Homo sapiens: one gene and its partners. The protein of the gene in region 3 purifies or fractionates together with the protein of the main gene of each other region. This does not show direct contact. Each region holds a gene or a part of one and is shown on either strand. Other genes may lie near its edges. The genes, in order: CALML5, SERPINB2, KHDC4, TRIM29, EXOC3 and SERPINB5.

The links.
Region 1: the proteins of KHDC4 (region 3) and CALML5 purify together in Homo sapiens (affinity purification with mass spectrometry; 2 studies listed by BioGRID and IntAct, with this or other methods). This does not show direct contact.
Region 2: the proteins of KHDC4 (region 3) and SERPINB2 purify together in Homo sapiens (affinity purification with mass spectrometry; one large-scale study listed by BioGRID and IntAct). This does not show direct contact.
Region 4: the proteins of KHDC4 (region 3) and TRIM29 purify together in Homo sapiens (affinity purification with mass spectrometry; 2 studies listed by BioGRID and IntAct, with this or other methods). This does not show direct contact.
Region 5: the proteins of KHDC4 (region 3) and EXOC3 purify together in Homo sapiens (affinity purification with western blotting, with the first as the bait; one study listed by BioGRID). This does not show direct contact.
Region 6: the proteins of KHDC4 (region 3) and SERPINB5 purify together in Homo sapiens (affinity purification with mass spectrometry; 2 studies listed by BioGRID and IntAct, with this or other methods). This does not show direct contact.

What each region holds. Positions count from the first base shown.
Region 1 is NC_000010.11:5,498,197-5,500,819, reverse strand, and holds CALML5 (calmodulin-like protein 5), read left to right. Parts: upstream 1-1,249; 5' UTR 1,250-1,381; coding exon 1,382-1,822; 3' UTR 1,823-2,123; downstream 2,124-2,623. UniProt on the Homo sapiens protein: Binds calcium. May be involved in terminal differentiation of keratinocytes.
Region 2 is NC_000018.10:63,890,705-63,894,204, reverse strand, and holds part of SERPINB2 (plasminogen activator inhibitor 2), read right to left. Parts: exon of another isoform or gene 3,305-3,500; intron 2,770-3,304; 5' UTR 2,761-2,769; coding exon 2,593-2,760; intron 1,585-2,592; exon of another isoform or gene 1,486-1,584; intron 1-1,485. UniProt on the Homo sapiens protein: Inhibits urokinase-type plasminogen activator. The monocyte derived PAI-2 is distinct from the endothelial cell-derived PAI-1.
Region 3 is NC_000001.11:155,914,980-155,917,413, forward strand, and holds part of KHDC4 (KH homology domain-containing protein 4), read right to left. Parts: intron 1,759-2,434; coding exon 1,646-1,758; intron 986-1,645; coding exon 894-985; intron 1-893.
Region 4 is NC_000011.10:120,117,614-120,121,113, forward strand, and holds part of TRIM29 (tripartite motif-containing protein 29), read right to left. Parts: intron 3,053-3,500; coding exon 2,960-3,052; intron 709-2,959; coding exon 610-708; intron 1-609.
Region 5 is NC_000005.10:456,676-460,175, forward strand, and holds part of EXOC3 (exocyst complex component 3), read left to right. Parts: intron 1-213; coding exon 214-331; intron 332-1,224; coding exon 1,225-1,350; intron 1,351-2,683; coding exon 2,684-2,784; intron 2,785-3,500. UniProt on the Homo sapiens protein: Component of the exocyst complex involved in the docking of exocytic vesicles with fusion sites on the plasma membrane.
Region 6 is NC_000018.10:63,475,802-63,479,757, reverse strand, and holds the start of SERPINB5 (serpin B5), read right to left. Parts: upstream 2,801-3,956; 5' UTR 2,713-2,800; intron 1-2,712. UniProt on the Homo sapiens protein: Tumor suppressor. It blocks the growth, invasion, and metastatic properties of mammary tumors.

The DNA of each region.
Region 1 (2,623 bases), on a different chromosome or scaffold from region 3:
GAATAAAGGAGTTTGTTCCCTGTGTACGGGCAGGGGCTGGGGAGAAGAATGGGAATCTATGGAGATCAGAGGGGACTTGCTTGGGAAAGGCATTTTGGGGACTCCAAGGCAAATGTCCCCTCACAACTGTAGATCACATCAGTGGAAGGACTTGGGGATGGTCCCCCGAAAGCTTAGCTGTTGCTCTAAAAGTTGGTCAAGGCAAGTGGCCCTGGGGGTTTCCTTCCAGAGAACAGATCAGATTGAGGACCCCAGTAGGCTCCCAGATGGGTCTCTGTGCTTAGGGCTGATGCTTAGTAAAACCACAAGGAGGGCCAAGTTTGATGGCAGCCACCTGTTCTGCATCCTCCTGCACCTCTGCCTGCACCTTTGGGGTATGCTGGGCACTGAGGTCCCCCGTGTCTCGCTGCAGCAAAACTCCAGCTGTAACTGTTTGACGCCCTGTGAATGGAACGCCTGCCACTGAGCTCCCAGGGTGTCTGCACAGGGAACCTTGGACTTGGCGATGGAATTGAATTGTAGGAATCCCTGAGCTAGAAGGGAGTATTCTGGGGAGACAAAAAGTCTTTCCCTCTCCTCTGAAACTGCACGTCACATGTTCACTTGATAAACACCATCTCAGCACCAGCTATGGCTCTGAAGGCAGCCCTGGTCCCTTGCTTCCTTGAAGTTATAGGCAGTGAGCCCCATCCTCTGTCTCTAGACCCTGGCCTGGGAATCTCATGATACCCACAGTTGTGCCCTGGCAGAATCAACACTACCACCCACTTCCCTTCCACCAGCCCCAGCCTCAGGGCAAGAGCTAGGCAGTAGCACTGGAGAGAGGGGTACGGAAACACCAAACACTGGGGCCTGCTGTGCCCTTGAGGGAGCCCTCTTCAAGCCACCTCCCCCTCCAGTCTCAGTCTTTGTGAAGTTGCAGAAGCTGTCTTGAACCCCTTGGCTTGGTCAGGATCTCCGAGAATCAGCTGCAGGGGAAACTATCCCTTGGGCAGAATGTTCCTGGAGGGAGGTGGTTGCTATCAAGGCCAGGCGGGGTTGGCAGGCTAGCCATCCGATACCCCGACCCCATGGCAGTTCCCACCTGGCACCTGACAGCTCTCCCAACTCCCATTCCTGCATTTCCTGTCTGCAGCTGATCTGGCCCTCCCTGGGAGGAGGCTCTCACCCCAGGGCATTTGGAGGGTGGGGAGCCTCCCTCCTCCCTTTGTTCCGATTGCAGAAAAGGAGGGGGTTCCCATGCCAAGGCAGAACTGTCTGGGACAGACGCTGCCCGGATCCCTGCGGCTGCCTGCACTCTGGACCACGAGCTCTGAGAGCAGCAGGTTGAGGGCCGGTGGGCAGCAGCTCGGAGGCTCCGCGAGGTGCAGGAGACGCAGGCATGGCCGGTGAGCTGACTCCTGAGGAGGAGGCCCAGTACAAAAAGGCTTTCTCCGCGGTTGACACGGATGGAAACGGCACCATCAATGCCCAGGAGCTGGGCGCGGCGCTGAAGGCCACGGGCAAGAACCTCTCGGAGGCCCAGCTAAGGAAACTCATCTCCGAGGTTGACAGCGACGGCGACGGCGAAATCAGCTTCCAGGAGTTCCTGACGGCGGCGAAGAAGGCCAGGGCCGGCCTGGAGGACCTGCAGGTCGCCTTCCGCGCCTTCGACCAGGATGGCGACGGCCACATCACCGTGGACGAGCTCAGGCGGGCCATGGCGGGGCTGGGGCAGCCGCTGCCGCAGGAGGAGCTGGACGCCATGATCCGCGAGGCCGACGTGGACCAGGACGGGCGGGTGAACTACGAGGAGTTCGCGAGGATGCTCGCCCAGGAGTGAGGCTCCCCGCCTGTGTCCCCCTGGCTGCGCTCTGAGCCTTCAGGGCCACCGCCCGCTGCTGCTTTTGTGCTGGGACTCTCCGGGGAAACCTGGTCGGTGGATGGGAAACTGCCTCCCCCTGGGAGGAAGGCTTTGCGCTCCGGGGCCTGGATGCGGCGCCCTCGGGCCGCCTGCGAGCCCCTCTCTGCCTCCAGACCTTGGGCAGAAGGAGGCCTCCTTGGGCCTGGTCCCCCTTTGCCCTGCAGTGGAATGAGGGCCCCTCAGCCCCGCATTGATCTAAATAAAGGACTGCCGAGTTCCATGTGTGCTTGGTGTTTGTGGGGCGGCTGCCTCCGAGGGCCCCCACCTGCTTCCAGGGTTCCTTCCAGCCCACCCCTCTCACCTGCGGTGGCAGAACTGCCTGGAGCAGGCCCCAGGGGCAGCTCCTGCCTCCCCTGACGCGGAGCAGAGGGCAGGTGGGCAGAGGATGTGTGAGGATGGTGCTGGGCGGTGTCTGTGGCTCCAGGTTCTGCCTGAGCTGCTGGTGAGGACCTGGGCACGTGTCCCGCACAAACAGGAGCGGGCGCCTCGCATGGACAGACGGAGCCCAGCTGCCAGCCTCTGCACGCAGCCTGCCTCTCTTCGGCTGCAAATAATATACGTGTACGTCTGTGTGTGCATCTGTGTGTGTGTCTGTGTGTCTGTATGCGTGTCTCTGTATGTGTGCATCTGTGTGTAAGTCTCTGTATGTTTGTGTGTCTGTGTGTCCTTGTGTGCATCTGCATGTGTATGTGTGTATCTGTGTGTGTGTCTGAGTGTGTC
Region 2 (3,500 bases), on a different chromosome or scaffold from region 3:
GACCCTTAAATCAGGGTTCTTTGGGCTAGCACTAAAGCCTTCCTGAATCAGTGTTAAAGTCACTCAGGGAGATGTCCCTGCAAAAGTGGGACTGTGAGCTGCCCCTAGTCCACACAAAGGCCACAGAGAAAATAGTGAGGCAGTTTGGCCTGGATGGGTCTGTTGCCTCACTGTAAGGAAAAGAGCTTATATCCTAATTCCCACAGACCTATGCCATCCAGGAGCTTATATCTTTTATGTATTCTTTTCTTTCACTACAAATGTACCACTTCTAACAGCTACAGCAATTCTCAACTGTGTGGCCTCTTCTTGCCCTGATTCCCTCATCTGTAAAATGAGTACGGTAATCATCGTACCTACCTCATAATATTTTGTCTTATGTGAGTAAATTTATAAGAAGTTCTTAGAAAGATGCCTGGCTAAGGCACTAATAAGTATTGGTTGTTATTATAGCAACTGCTACTAAGTGCCTTACATAGTACCTCTAATCTTCACAACTTTCTTGCATGCTACACATTTTTATTCCCATTTTGTAGATGAGAAAACTGAGATGCAAATGGTTTCAATGTCCTCACACACATGTAGTAAGGAACAAAGCCATGACTCAAACACAGATACGTCTGTCCCCAAAGTCTGTGCTGCTTTCTCCAGCCAATAAATGTCTTTTTCTTTTTATCTGGGAAGCAATCATATTAACATTTGAATTTCAAAATCTACACATGCAACAGAGTTGTCAAAAGACGATATATATAGAGTCTCAAAAAAAAAAAGACTATATAGAATCCTCGCATAGTCCCAAAGGCTTAAAGCACTTCTTAGACACAGAAAAGCTGTCTTGTGTCCAGAGCAATCAGTTTATTTTCCTCTAGTACCAAAATCAAGATTTTTACTTTAACAACCCAGAGCACTTCATTTAGCATTTGCTCCCAAAATATATTGCTACTGATTCCTTTACATTTAAAAAACAAAAAAACCTAGGCCGGGTGCACTGGCTCACGCCTATAATCCCAGCACTTTGGGAGGCCGAGGCAGGTGGATCACAAGGTCAGGAGTTTGAGACCAGCCTGGCCAAAATGGTGAAACCCCATCTCTACTAATACAAAAATTAGATGGGCATCGTGGCAGGCGCCTGTAATCCCAGCTACTCGGGAGGCTGAGGCAGGAGAATGGCTTGAACCTGGGAGTTGGAGGTTGTAGTGAGCCAAGATCGCACCACTGCACTCCAGCCTGGGTGATAGGGCGAGACTCCATCTCAAAAAAAAGAAAGGAAAAAAGAAAAAAACCTAAGACCTGATGTTTCTAAAGCTTTTGTGCCAATTTACTATCTTTATTCTTTCAAGGCAAAAAATAAAAAATAATGGGGAAAGAATATTGCAAAAGACTACTTGTGTCAGGGAGTTGAGCAATTGAGTTTTGTTGTAAGTCTCAATGTTTAAACTGTCACAAACACAGAGATTGATTCACCCATCCCTTGTCTTCCTGCAGCAATATTGGCCAATGCTCTCTCTGTGAAACTTCAAACTTCAAATGAGGCCCACCTTACATGGGTCACCATGTGCATGGAAAGAATGTATTTACACTCAGGTACATTCTCGTGGGAAACTGGAAACCAGCCGGCGGCATCTTGGTGTGACTGCATGCACAATGCATGCGTGTCCTTAAAGCATTTAATGTTAATGTTTGTATGTGTGAATGCAAAGGAATTTTAATGATATCATGGCCACATCGAGGTCACTAACCTTGGAAGTAACATGATCACAAGAATTTTGTATGTGCTGAGTGACTATTACAGTAACGATTGCAGTGTATAATTGAAGTAGTCCGGCATAATTTCAAGGGCCCAGACTCCGTGGAAAGAGTTTCCTGACTGAGTCCACGTCCATTCACCAAGGAAGGCAGGCAGTGGCCTTGCAGAAATCCCTCACAATGATGTTGTGCATCCCATCTACCTTGGTTTTCAGGGCTGGCCATAATAATGCCAGGTCTCATTCTGCTACCGTGACCTCACAGGCATGATCTTCTGCAGCTACAACACTATCCATGCATCCTGTGGGTATAGTGAGCACCACCCTGGTATGTTTTTTTTTTTTTCCCTTTGTGATACTCTCTTAACATTATTAGAAGGAATTCTTCATAGGAATAGGGAACAAACACCACAGTGGCACAGTAATGGGAAGGAGCCCAGGCTAGGAGTTAGGAGACAGTGGGGGCTTCTCTGACACCACCAGGGCTCTCATCTGTAAAATGATATCTGTCTTAAAACTGAATGAGATAATGGGTACAAAACACTAACTTTGAAAAATAAGAATATTATATTATTAAAATATAAGATGTGGTCACTCATAACTGTGTCCAGCCTTGCAGGCTATTCAACTCCCATATGCCTTCAACAGCTACAGTTGAGGGATTCGGGGGCTTGGCTGTCTTATAGATTTGAATCTAAGGAATTTGTGTTGTAAGGATCAGTGCTTCATTACCTGTGATGATTGCTGACCTCCTGAGTTAAAATGTCTTTAGCATAAAACAAGAGCAGTTCTCCAATTCCATTCAGGAACTACTCGGCCCAAATGTGGAGCTTCAGCTCAAACTCACCTTGGCCATCTGGTCTTCGGTGCTGCCCCTGGAGCCCATGTAGACCATGGCCATGGTGGACGAGATGCTCCATGGGGAGAGGAAGAGGTTCTGGGTGGGGCTTGCTTTTGCCAGATGCTTGAATAAATTGAGGGCAAAGAGTGTGTTTGCCACACAAAGATCCTCCATTGTTTCAATCTAGAAGCAAAGAGAGGAAGAAAAAAACAGCTCTGAAACATAAGGTAACATTTTGGGTGAGGTCAGCAACAGTAGGACAGGCTGCATTCTGTGTAGGGACAGATTCCCTGTCTGTTCTTCCTCATGGAACAACATGAGGCAGGTCAGGGACAGCTTCATGGACATACCACCTGTGCAGCCGTAAAAAGCCCCTTGTTTAGCCAAATGCCCTCCTATCGCCATCTTGAAATTCTTGATAATTTTAAACAAAAGGCCCACATTTTCATTGTGCACCAGACGCTGTAAATTACATAGCCAGTCCTGAGATACATGAAGTGTTTTGTATGATGAGCAGCGACACTTTGTGGCATTCCATAGAATAACAATGACAATATATAGGGACAGGAGTAGGAATTGAAGCCAGATAGGCAGACCCTAGGATCATGCTCTCAACTTCTATGCTGCCCCCACAAGCACAACGCACACATCCACACCACACACACTGCCACACAGGAAGATATACACATATTGAAATATATGCCACCTGCATACATACCTTGTTGCATCTGGTAAGACGGTCAATCTTCTTTCTGCTTTCCTGCTTCTAAAGTGACTTTGACTCATTGTTTGAAGGTTTGGAGTTTCACCCAGCCCCTATCCCAGAACCCCTTCCCTATATGCACCACACATACCACAGCCTTACTAAAAAAGACTTCCTATACTGGGGTGTTCATTACTGGGAGGACTAGAAG
Region 3 (2,434 bases):
TTCTAGATACACGTTGGTTGGAAACAAAAGGTTGTCTGTATACAATTTTTTTAAAACTATTTTCTCTCTCTCTCTCTCGGCACACGTTTGTTGGAAATAAAAGGTTGTCTGTATACAATTTTTTAGAAACTATTTTCTCTTTCTCTTTCTTTTTTTTTGAGACAGAGTCTCACTCTAGTGCCCAGGCTGGAATGCAGTGGTGTGATCTTGGCTCACTGCAACCTCCACCTCCCAAGTTCAAGTGATTCTCCTGCCTCAGCCTTCCAAGCCGCTGGAATTACAGGCATGCACCACCATGCCCAGCTTAATTTTTCTATTTTTAGTAGAGACGGGGTTTCACCATGTTAGCCACGCTGGTCTCAAACTCCTGACCTCAGGTTATCCGCCCACCTTGGCCTCCCAAAGTGCTGGGATTACAGGCGTGAGCCACCGTGCCCAGCCCAAAAGTATTTTCACTGGCCAACAGATTATAGAGGTTGGATTAAACACCTGAATGAACATCAGGTTAGAAAATTAATAGCTTTATTTATGTATTTATTTATTTATGAGATGGAGTCTTGCTCTATTGCCCAGGCTGGAGGGCAGTGGTCTGATCTTGGCTCACTGCAACCTCTGCCTCCCAGGTTGAAGCGATTCTCCTGCCTCAACCCCCTGAGTAGCTGGAATTACAGGCGCCCACCACCATGCCCGCTAGTTTTTGTATTTTTAGTAGAGATGGGATTTCACTATGTTGGCCAAGCTGGTCTTGAACTCCTGACCTTAGGTGATCTGCCCACCTCGGCCTCCCAAAGTGCTGGGATTACAGGCGTGAGCCACTGCGCCCGGCTGAGAAAACTAATAGCTTTAGACCAGTCTTAGCCACTCCCCTGTTCCCCCAGCTATATCACACTCACCATGGCTCCCTGTTAAGGTCCCAGACCCATTCCTTTCATCGGACTCTGTTTTTATTCCAGTCACTGGAAAGGCTGGTGGAGGCATCAACTGCCTATTGAAAAACAAAATGAAACTTTCTTTCAGACAATTTAAATTTTCTTAACTTATCCAGTGGATTAGAAGTGCAATTATGTCTGCAGACAATCCTTCAAATTCATTTTAACCATTAATTTCAACCCCTTCCACCTTCCCCCAGCCCCTTTATAAAAGTATAAGGCCTGTCTACACAGCAATTGCCATGACAAAAATCGAATGAACTGTTATAGAAAGATATCAGCTCCTTTCTTATGAAGGTTAATATACTAATATAAGAAAGGAAAATTCAAGCACTGTGTGGCAGGCTGAACTCCCACATTCATGTACTTCCATCCATGATATTCTAATGACTCTAAAGTAGCAAAAATAGCTGAATTATGTAACATTTCTGTTACTGTCTACCCTTAGGAAAATGGCCAAGATGCAGACAATGGAAGTCAAGAAAGATGTCTGAACAAGTAATAAATTATTCAAAACCGAATATAACTGCTTCTAAATCTGTAAAAGGCCTATCATATTTTACTTCATTGCATCAATTACAACAAACAGAAGCATATTTGATTCAAAGATTTCATTTCAGTTTCAGAATACTTAAGCTCATAGCAATGATCATTACTCTCACTAATGGTGCAAACAAATAACATCTGAATACATTTGCATAATTATTCCAACTTACCTGTCCCTCTCTCTCTCTTTGCCTGAGGAACTTGCTGGCTTCGATCCTGCACCTTCAATCTCATTCTGACTGGAGAAGCCTGTACCTAAATTAGTCATATGAATGGGTCCATGCTATGAGCAGAAAAATACAGTGGCATTAGCAAATCTACAACTGCCGTATTGACTTTAGCTCCTTAATGTAACTGTCAAGTGCCTCATCTTTCTGATAAGTTGTAGTACGTTAAACTACTACAAAGCTCTTTGGGATCTGCTGTGTAACTGTAGTCAAAAGTAGGGATTTTTTTTTTTCTCTATAGGACTTGGACAGGGGTGTTATAATTCATTATGCTATCTATGGCCTGTTTTTAACTGACTGCCCATAGCTCCACTAGTTTCTATAAACCTAGCTAGAAACTATAAAAAAATGCTTTGGTTTAAAGAATGATTCAAGGATTCTGGCAAAATGGAAAGGTACTTCTGATAAAATTGCACCAAAACTACAAATTAAGAATCTTTTTAACTTTAGTGGCTAACTTTACAATTACATGTACAGAATCACTCCTTTTCTAGCAGTCTTGAGGGGTGGGGAGACTGGAGGGAGATATCACTCTCTTTTTTAGGTGGAGGGTAAAAGAGAGAGCACCACTGAAAGCCAAGGTTTTAAATACAAACCACATACTGGTAGATCAAGAGCTTTGAGTGAGATGTATAAGAAAGTAAGAACTCTCAGAGGCTTTCAAGAGTCTGTTGAATAGGATAAAAAACCTAACCAAAATGAATTCCAGAAAGCAGAAATCCTAGTACTGGG
Region 4 (3,500 bases), on a different chromosome or scaffold from region 3:
CCAGAGTCTGGTTCAAGCCTGCCCCCTCAGGATGCCCCCAACCCCAGGGGACAGGAGGCGTCAATCACTCTGCCTTGTCAGAGTGCTGGGAGCACCACAGGCAGGCGGGGGACAGAGTGCAGGAAAAGAGGATCAGCCTTGGGGGGACTTAGGGTCGTCTGGTCCTGCCTTTCCCAAAGGGGCGCCTGCAGGATTGGATCTGCAGGATGCTGGCAGGTGCCCCATGGCCACAGGACCCTAGAGCCAGCCAACGCTGGGAGTTAAATAAACTCTGCAGTAGGAGAAGCAGCATCCTGAGGATCAGAGAGGTCGAGTGCAGGGGGTATGGCATGTCCCCCGGTCCTGACCACTGAGAGCTGTTGTTGCAGCGTGTAGTTAGAGACTAGAGAGCGGTGAAACAAGCCCTGGGAAACGCTGATGTGGCCCAGCCCCCACCCCTGCCCTCATTTTCAGCAAAGACCATGGCGGTAGCTCCCGGGCTCTCAGGCCAGGCCTCTCTCCTCCACGAGGTGAGGGAGGAACTAGCAGCTCAGCGAAGAGACCCAAGCAGGGCTTGGGAGGTGTGAGGCAGCTGTGGAGGAAAGCAGGGGCCAGGGTGGGCAAGCTCACCTTTCAGGGAGAAGGAGGAGCTGCCTTGGACGACGGGCAGGTCATTGTCAGAGTTCTGAATGCTGGAGGAGTACTCCCAGACCCGGGAGGTGTAGTTACCTGGCAGGACAAAGAAGGGCTGTCAGGCCCCCACAGCTGGGAGTGGGAGAGGAGGCAGGACCAGGACACAGCCAGGTCTATGACTCTCTAGCCGCTGGCCACAACTTAAGCCAGGATGCCACTGTGTGATCCCAGTGACGCCTCACCCCCATCCTTCTGCCACCAAAGCTATCTTTCTAAAATATAAAGCATAGTCTTGTCCCTGCCCTACCTAAAGGCCACTGTCCTCAGAATAAGGGACAAAGTCCCAAGAGCAGCCCAGAGCTCTGTCGTGAGTTGCTCCCCCAACCCCCACCACCCACCCACCATCTCCCACTTCTTGACTTCACCTCTGCCCTCCCTCCACCACTGGACATTCAAACCAGGCTAAGCCTCAGTGTCTGAGACACTCCATCTTCTCTCCTGCCCCAGGCTATGTGCCCAGACCCTGTCCTCTGCCTAGGACACTTCTCCTGCTTGCCACCCTCGGCGATTCATGGGTGGGGTCTTCAAGTGTCAGCTTACATGGCACCTCCCAACGTCTGCATGTGCCTTCAGCTTCATCCCCACATCGTCCTGCAACCCCTACCCTCTGGGTCGCAATTACATGTTCAATTGTCTGTCTCCCGCAGTGAGCTCACGTGAACTGGGAATGTGCCTGTCTGGCCCCTGCATCACACCTGGTGCCTGGCACAGAGCCTGGTTCCTGGAAGGTGCTCATTGTATGGTTGATGGATAGAATGCATGAACCAACGAACGAATGAATACAAACACATCCTAAAACTTGGGGACAAGACAGTTGATAGTTGCCAAGTTGAATAGGCTAACACATGCCTATGTGCAGACATGTTCTATAGTCCAGAGGAGAAGAAGGCAGTGGGAAAGGGGTGGGAGAAGCTGCCAGGGCACTCAGAGGGCACTGGAGTGGGGGGCTCAGAGTCCCCATGGGTGACGCACACTTCTCCAGCACCACACCCCCACCTGCCAGGCTTGAAGCATCAGTGACCTCCTTAGTCAAGCTCACTCCTTAGCAGCCTGTGGGGAGGGCTGGGGGCTGACTTTTGGGCTCAGGGGTCACAGATGGCTGGGGTTGGCCACCTGCCCCTGTGCAAAGCCCTCCCACAGGGATCCCAGGCAGCTTCTGTAGCAAGGCCTCAGTAAGCACGTCCAGCCAGGGTTCCGCGAGGCCAGACACCTTGCCCTCCTGTTCACTCATGCCTTTAGCCTCTCTCTCAACAACTGCTTCCTGACCCCCTCCTACTTTTGAGCTCTGGGCCTGTAGCAGCGAACAGGACAGACACAGCTCTGTCCTCAAGGTGCCCAAGGTCTACTGCATATGTGGAGGAGGGGTGCCGCTGATCACGGCTGTGAATCCAATTCTGGATGTAGAGGCCCAGGCATTGCTCTGGTGCCCCTGACCCTCCAGTCTCCATGAGTCTTGCCCTCACTGAAGAGTCCTCCAGTGCTATGTCTAGGGTGGGGGCTGACCCAGTCCCCTCCCTCCCTGTGCATGGCTGGCATGTGACCAGGAGCCCCCAGGACAGAACCAGGGTCTCCCAGAACCAGGTCTCATTGAATGCATGGCCCTGCCCTTGAGCAAATGGTCCCCTCAGAGCACTGGGCAGAGGGAGACCCTGAACTTAGCAGCTTCCCCTGGGGAAGCCACATCCCCACACCCATTTCATCCCATCTGGGTCTTAAGGTGCTGCTCGCTTGCCTCACCACCTGGAGCTCCAGGGCCAGCCCCATTTCCTGCCGTGCCTTCCTTTCCAGTCACAGCCAAGTTGACAACTAACCACTGTACGACTTTTCACTGCAGAAGTACTCAAATCAGTAGAGATTCTCTTTGGGTCCTCGTGCCCTCATACTTGTGGGGGGGGTGGCGCATTCCCCACACTTAAGCCCAAGGTGGCTGCTCAGACCCAGTTTTCCCCAGATCCTTCCTCAGGGATCAGAAGAGCACACAGACTCAGGGATCTCCAGGGATGCCGAGATTCCTGGCTGTTTTTCCTCCAGCCTAACTAATGGTGTCCCCCACACATGTACACACACACACACACACACACACACACACACACACACACACACACACTTTAAGCTCGGTAGGTAGGACCCCTCCCTACCCATGCCTGGACCCTCCACCCATCCTAGCTTCCCACATTCATCTCACACTGGGGTCCCAGCCCTGTGCCCCTGGACCCACCTCTATGCCCCTCCTGCCTGCACAGCCCCACATGAACTCTGTGCACCCTTGAGCTGAGCCACCACCTACCTTTGGTGCCATAGAGATTGTTGAAATTCTTCTGGGTGGTCTCCTTGGTGAAGCGGCCAGGAGACGAGGGCTGGTATGATGTCCGGACCCCACCTGTGAAGCAGATGAAGGGGGCTGTCATTGCAGAAAATTGTCTCATCAGGACTCCTTGCCCCCAAAAAGTTGCCCAAGTGCCCATCACAGGACCTGGATTCCACCACTGAGAGAAGTCCTTTGGGTCTGACATAAGTCAATCAACTAATTTATCACCCAAATTGGCATGCTTTTGAGAGTAGAAGGACTCTGTTAGTAACCGTGCAGAGAGCATCAGCATAAACTTGGAGAGGCCATGGCAACCACGAGGGCAGAAGCAGTAGGCTCTCAGCCACGTGAGGGTGGGGCCTCCTGGAAGTGGCCTAATGAGCCAGAAACACCTCCCAGGGGCCCACCCAGGCTGCTGCTTCCCGGGAGATCAGAGCCTCACTTCACAAGTGCTTTCCTTCCCGCACACCTGGGCTCTCACAACAGCCTTGTGAGGAAGCAGTGGGGACTGATACCACCA
Region 5 (3,500 bases), on a different chromosome or scaffold from region 3:
CACGCAGTCTGGGAGCCAGTGGGGTGATGCCACAGAGACCCCAAAGCCCTCGGCCCCTGCCCTGCACTTTCCCCTGAGCTGTGGGCCGGCTGTGACCAGGAAGTCTCCAGGGTGGTGGACATTCATGTGTCAAGTGAAACAGTCTCGGCACACTTGGGCATGCTCTTCTGTGTCTGTCGTGGTTTGTCACTCACATTCCTGGTTCCCCCATAGTACTGAGATGATGAGGAACGTGGAGCTGGCCCCGGAAGTGGATGTCGGCACCCTGGAGCCATTGCTTTCTCCACACGTGGTCTCTGAGCTGCTTGACACGTACATGTCCACGCTCACTGTGAGTAGGGCTGGCCTGCGTGCCACAGACCACCGTGCTGGTTATATGAGTAACTAGGGCTTGGCAGCAGGCAGGAGGCAGGGGGGAAATGCCTTAGCGTTGACTTCCTAGGATGCATTGCTCAGTTGCCCGGGCTCTGCTTCCAGGCCTTGACAGGTCAGTTTGCTAGAAGAGGAGAATGGCCCCTTCTCTGGGCCTGGATCTGAAGCTTGTCCTCTGCTGGAGACGTGAGCCTGTGCCCTACTCGGCAGGCTGGCCAGGGCCCAGAACGTCTGAACCGTGTGTGGCAGCACCTGCCAGGCTCTCGGCTCTGAGTCCCATGGTTGGGGGGGTCCGTCAAGGACCAAAGGGCGAGTCCATTTGCAGCCTGGTGACCACCAGGTGGTCTCAGAGTGAGAAGAGGAGGTCAGCAGGGTCTGCTTCTTAGACAAGGGTGCGTCCACCTAGCAAGGCAGCATTATGACCAGAAGCCGAGGTGTCCTCAGGAGCTGGGGAAGGAGCGCTGTCTTCTCTTGGGACGTGAGCTGCTGTGGTTGCTGAGTCTGGGCATGGGAACAGGCCTGACCGGACCTGGTCGGCCTCATTCTCTGTGCACCTGGGATTCAGCGGCCTTGTCCTCCAGCATGAGGTGCAGCCAAAAGGGCATCTAGTTTCTTCTCCCTCTTTATCTGTACCAAGGGTTCCAGTTAAACCCCTGCGGGCTGCTGTGGTCACTGCCTCCCATGGGGGTGGCTCCTGGGTCCCTGCTCTGGAGTCCTCATTTGAGAAAGAGGACGCTGGTGCCCTGTGTCTGGTTTGTGGAGCTTGTGCATGCAACTGACCAGGTAATTGGCATGACCCTCAGGCACCTGCTCTTCTCTCTTCTCTTCTCCATGATGCTGAACTTTCTTTAGTCAAACATCATCGCCTGGCTGCGGAAAGCGCTGGAGACAGACAAGAAAGACTGGGTCAAAGAGACAGAGCCAGAAGCCGACCAGGACGGGTACTACCAGACCACACTCCCTGCCATTGTCTTCCAGGTACCACCTGCAGGGGACTGGCACAGTTCCGTTTCCTAGGTGGATAGTGGGACCTGTAGGTTTTACAAAGTGACACAGATACCTGGGATCTTCATCCACAGAGTGTAGTAAAAATATTGAGAGCCCTGCCTGGTGCATCTAAGTCCTCTCCTCTCTCTGTCTCTTACTCTCTGGAGCTGCAGAAACCTGGGATGATACTTACCAAATAGTTTTGCCCAAGGTCACTTTACTTTTCTGACCTGGTCTTTATGGGTTTGGACTACAGCCTAATTGTATGTTATTTATGTGCGACTTTCAAATGTGAGTTTGTTTGGTCGATATCCAGGATTTGTCCTAAAAAATGGCACATGATTGAGTTTAAACAGGTGGATTTTGGGAGCGTCCATTATTTTTTTTGAGACGGAGTCTCACTCTGTTGCCCAGGCTGGAGTGCGGTAGCACAATCTTGGCTTACTGCAATCTCTACCTCCTGGGTCAAGGCGTCCATTAGCTTTTAAAGTTGCTTTCCTGTTCATTGGTTAAGGTTCTAAGTATTAGACCGACCTGCATTTTTACCACGGATTCACTTTCCAACGCCCAAGCCTCACTAGGTGTTAGAACCGGTGTGTTCTTACCACGGATTCACTTTCCAGTGTCCGACCGCCCTGTGTCCCGTTTTTCCTGCTCTTTTTTTCTTTTGGCACATCATGTGTTTTAATTTGAGTGGCATTGCTGAGGGATGGAGCCCCGTTGTGTTAGAATCCTCACTCAGGACTCTAGTTAGGCAGGAGTGAGGGCTGGCGGGTGACATTTCTCTCTGAATGATACCGTTAGTTATTGACAGGCTAGTCCAAACCCTTTCCTTTGTTTGGAAACAGATGCCGTGAGAAACTGTGAGGAGAGCTCTGTCCCCTTGCCCTTCCTCTGCCTGGGTCAGCTCCTGGCAGGGCCTGGCACACCCCAGGTCCAGATTCTTAGGAACTCTGCATCATGACAGTCATGGGGCCAGGGAGGGTGAGTCAGGTGCCTGAGGGGCGCCATCCCGGGTGGGGCCTCACTCCACACATTAAAACTCCAGTCACGTAGTGTGAGGACAGACATGGCCCCCGTGGGAGAAACCAGTTTGCCAGGAATTAAGAAATGAGTCACTTGGTACTTTCCCAGGTGAGAAAGTTGTTTTTTTTTTTTTTAAACTAACTTTGTTATTTTTCACGTGGTTTCATTTTTTTTTTCTCTGAATTTGGACTATCCTAAATGCCAGTTAGCAGATGGAGGTTTCATATAACAGCAAACCTGCACTCTTAGTATACTCCTGTAAGATTATACCAGAATTCATAAGTTCTCTGATTTTTAGATGTTTGAACAGAATCTTCAAGTTGCTGCTCAGATAAGTGAAGATTTGAAAACAAAGGTACTAGTTTTATGTCTTCAGCAGATGAATTCTTTCCTAAGCAGGTATGTCTTTCTGCCAGTGTGCTAATGTACACATTGAATGTTTTTAAAAATTAGAAGCAAAAATTTTTTGATCCTACTATGCCTGTTACTAAGAAGAAATTAAGCCGGTAGATTCCCCACGTGTCACTCCTGTGTTCTTCAAAAGCAAAGGGAGGGAGCGGAGCTTCTGGATCATCTTCCCCTTGAGTGGACCACACACCCCCTTGGGCTCCCAGAGCTGATGTGTTGTGACGTCCTTAGCGATGCGCCGGATGACACCAACTCTGTTGGAGTCAGGCTCCTCCTGTTGCCTGTTCTGAACTTCCTTGGGGTGGGGGTGGCGACTCCTGCCGCAGTGCCTACTTCGTAGTGGGGAGGGCGTCCTCGGCTGAGCCGGCCCTCCTCAGAAGGGCTCCAGGCAGCCATGACCTGGCACGCCACCCTCCCCATGAGTTGTTGATAATTTTCAAACCTATACAGATGTGGAAAAGAGTTTAAAAAACTGTGTTCACCCATCGTGCAGTCCAGAAGCCATCCCCTCCAAAGCCCCCTTGCCTAATCTGTTCTCCCCTGCCCATTCCACTCTCTCTGCTGAAGTACCTTCAGGCAAACCCCGGGCGCTGTGGCATGGTATTTGCGACCCTCTCTGAAGCCACTGCAGTGCCATCAAGTCAGAGACACATGCACGGTGACTCCGTGGGGTCATCCGATGCCAAGTCTGCGTTTGGGTTGTATCT
Region 6 (3,956 bases), on a different chromosome or scaffold from region 3:
ACTGAGTACCTAATTTGTGTCAGGGTAAGCATTAAGAAAAGGTGAAAACGACATAGCCCCTGCCTCCAAGGAGCTGTCAGTTAGTGGTATGATGACTGTTTTAAGTGTTTTGATGAGCACCCAAGTCACTATGGGATCCCCAGGAGTGACAGACCCCCCATACTAGAAACCTCAGTGACACCTCCTCAGAGACAGTGACAACTGAGTAAGTCACATTAAAGGTGAGTCCTACAGGATAAGTAGGAGTTAGCCTTGCAAAAACGTGGGACAGGGAGAACTGACTCAATTCAGAGAGGCCCCAGTGAATGGAGACGCATGTACTGGGCTGGGGGTAGGGCCGTGCTCACTTCTCTAGACTTATAGCTTGTCACTGGTCTTTGTATGAAGATTTCCTAAGTTTTTTATGCATCTGAGCCAATGGTCCTCACATTTTTTGTCTTTAGACCATTTAGGTGAGAAAAAAGTCCTGTGGGTAGGATATATACATCCCACTTTGCCTGGGACAATCCTGGTTTATGTCTGTTGTCTTGACATTGATAACAGTGCCCCGTTTACTCTCAAACATATCCTGATTTGAACAATATATGTTCATTTTACTTATAGACCATCAACCACACTCTTCACCCACACATCACGGGCGTGCATATTTAAACAGAGCTATGAGTATAGTTTTTTCATCCCTTAAAACCTTAACTTTTGGCCGGGTACAGTGGCTCACACCTGTAATCCCAGCACTTTGGGAGGCCAAGGCGGGCAGATCACTTGAGGTCAGGAGTTCGAGACCAGCCTGGCCAACATGGTGAAACCCTGTGTCTACCAAAAATATAGAAATTAGCCGGGCGTGGTGGCACGTGCCTGTCATCCCAGCTACTTGGGAGGCTGAGACAGAAAAATCACTTGAACCTGGGAGGGTGAGGTTGCGGTGAGCCAAGATCGTGCCACTGCACTCCATCCTGGGTGACAAAGCAAGACTCCATCTCAAGAAAAAAAAAAAAAAAACTACGTTTTTACTGTGTCAGAGTATCGTAGATATCATTTAGCCTGGCCTGCCTCATTTTAAAGATGGAAAGACATGGTGAAAAACATCTCTCAAGTATTTGGTATAACCAGTCCTTAGGGAATGCCATGAGAAACCTTGCCTATTATAATATCAGTAATGGAATGCCAAAAAACACAACCTCTGTTGTCCACATTCTAAGTCTTTGAGGAGCAAAGGATGTGCAGGATTAAGAAAATAGGATATTTTGAAGTTTCTGCAATGTGAAAGACTATGAGGACTAAACGAAGTGATTAAGTGAATCAATGTATATGAAAAGTGCTTTGTGGGCAAGAAAGTACAATACAGCTATTAGTAATTGCTTTAATTTCCCATGGCAGGGGGGCGTCTGCTTTGCTCTGAAGCATCATAGCTGCTCCTGTCTCTTTAGAAGCCTGATCTTGACCACTGACCCAGCCCACTGTTGCCAAGCAGTAAACTTACAGCCAGACTCAGCCACACCAGAATGGCCCAAATCGCTGAGACTGCATAGCCCCAAAGTCAATCCACAACCCAGAGGGATTGAAGTGGCACAATTCAAGGCGTTAGGAAGCAAAGATATAAACCTGCTGACTCATTTCCTTTGGAGACTCCTTTCCTCAGACAGGCTTCATCTCCACCCATGAAGGAACTCATCGAACACTTACACTAACTGACAGGGACTGAGGTTTGGAACCCATTATCGAAAACCTCCCGGGAGATGTAGGGGATGAAAAAGATGGTAACAGAACCCACGGTGTTGTGGAAACATCCCGAGCTGCAAGTGTGAAGGCCTGATTTGATCTCAGCGGTGCTACTTACAAGCTGTGTGCCTTTGGACACCAGATCACCTCTGTGAGTTCTGCTCCTCATCTACAGAATGAGGGGGCTGGGCTGAAATATGTCTAAGAGCCCCCAGCTCTGAGGATCTGGTTACAAGTCTCTGGAATAGCCTGGCATGTTGGTTTTTAGTATGATATGCTTAAATGAAGCCATAAGAAAAAGTGTACAGCATATGAGTAAGAAACTACAAGCAGCTATTACAATTTATAAGTCCAAGAATATGCATCTGAAATGTGTAACTTGTTTAAAGTTATGCTGAAACCCAGAAAACTGAAGGGAGAATAATTTCCGCTTAGAAGAATGCAGTTGCAAGTAGATGAACAGCGATCTGATGCTTAAAAATGCCAAAAAGAAGGGCAGTCCATATGCCTAAATCTCAGCCTTACAACGTCAGCCAGGGAGAAGAGCCAGCCAGACCCACCAATACTTCTCAACTTTCCCCAGTTTGCGGGTACCACACCCTTTCTGAAACTAGCATTGCAAAATTCATTCTGAGTTCCAAAGTAGGCCTGAAAATGTCCTCAGAAGTATTTTCTCCTCCGTGAATCACGGTTGCACCCCTCTACCACCAAAACCTCCGAGCCACGTGACTTCTTCATATTCTTACCTTGTATGGTTAAGTGATTTTACTCCCTCTGCAGTGTTCCTGGTGCTCAAAGGGTTGGGAGCTGGAAATACTGCCAACATGGGGGATGAGAGGCGACAGTACTCAACCCAACAGCCCGTCTTTGAAAACAGCCCCAAAATGGACCTAAGTCCATTTTGTTCACCATCTCAAATCAGCTCAAATAACGATATTTATGAATTTCCCTGAAAAAAGGAAGTCACCAGCCCTGCTACCCCACCTTGCTTACCTGGAGTCACAGTTATCCTGGAAAATGCGTGGAAAAGGAACAGGCAAGCGAGGAGCACAAAGACCTGGATGTGGAGGCGACCGTGTCTGGGCAGAAGCAGCGGTGGCTCACCTGGGCAGCACCGCCACGCCCACTGCCAGCCCAGCTCCACGCCCCGCCCCGCCCCGCCTCGGCGGCACTCCTCTCCTACTCAAGCCTCTTGGCAGCTTGTCCACAATTGAAAGAAATGATTCAGGCTGAAGTTACTGTTGTCTGCACAGCTTCCAAAAGGCCTCCAACATGTTCGGGCAGGAAGGGGCTGTGAGTTACATGCATACGTACAGACATGCGTACGGCAATCCTCTCGGCCCACGCAGGACCGGAAGGTGAAATATTCGATGAAATAAAAGTAATGTGTGATGATAGTAACACTACAAATTTCTCAGACACGTTGGTGGCACAAAAAGTACTCTGATCTCCATTCTTTTTGTGTAAACTGCAGCAGCTCATTCTGCTAGATGCCAAGAGAGGTAGCTGCCCATTAAACAGAAAGACAATCAAAAAAGAAGGAATGGATATATGTATAAACACAGTGCCTACCTAAAAATTAGGTACTATTAGCAAAATATTTACTACCAAATTGGTAGGAGATATTGTTTAATGGGTGGCGCAGGAAGTTTCTTTTTAAAATCCTGTGATTAGGATTACTCAGGCCTGGCGCGGTGGCTCACGCCTGTAATCCCAGCATTTGGGGAGGTTGACGTGAGCGGATTGCTTGAGCCCAGGAGTTTGAGACCAACCTGGGCAACATGGTGAGACCCCATCTCTACAAAAAATGTAAAACAATAGCCTAGTGTGGTGATGCATGCCTGTGGTCCCAGTTACTTGGAAAGCTGAGACGAGAGGATCACTTGAGCCTGGGAGGTCAAAGCTGCAGTGAGCCGTGAGCTAACCACTGTACTTCAGCCTGGGTGACAGAGCAAAAGAAACAAAAAGAAAAAGGAGTACGCAGCTCTGCTCTGAAATCTCTTCGTGGAGCCTGTTCTTGTCCTCCTGTCTTCCCACAGCTTCTTCATTTGGCGGGACCTACTCCCTTCCAGCCGAATCAGTCTCAGGAAAGGACCTGAAACGGAGCTGGTTGCTTCTCTGCTGTGCTTATCTAGAATTCCCTATTGTACATTTACTACATTGTTTCATAATAATCTCTTACATTCTCCTATATGTGACTACAACAATGTTAAAGGTAAGTGCCAAACTTCATTCAT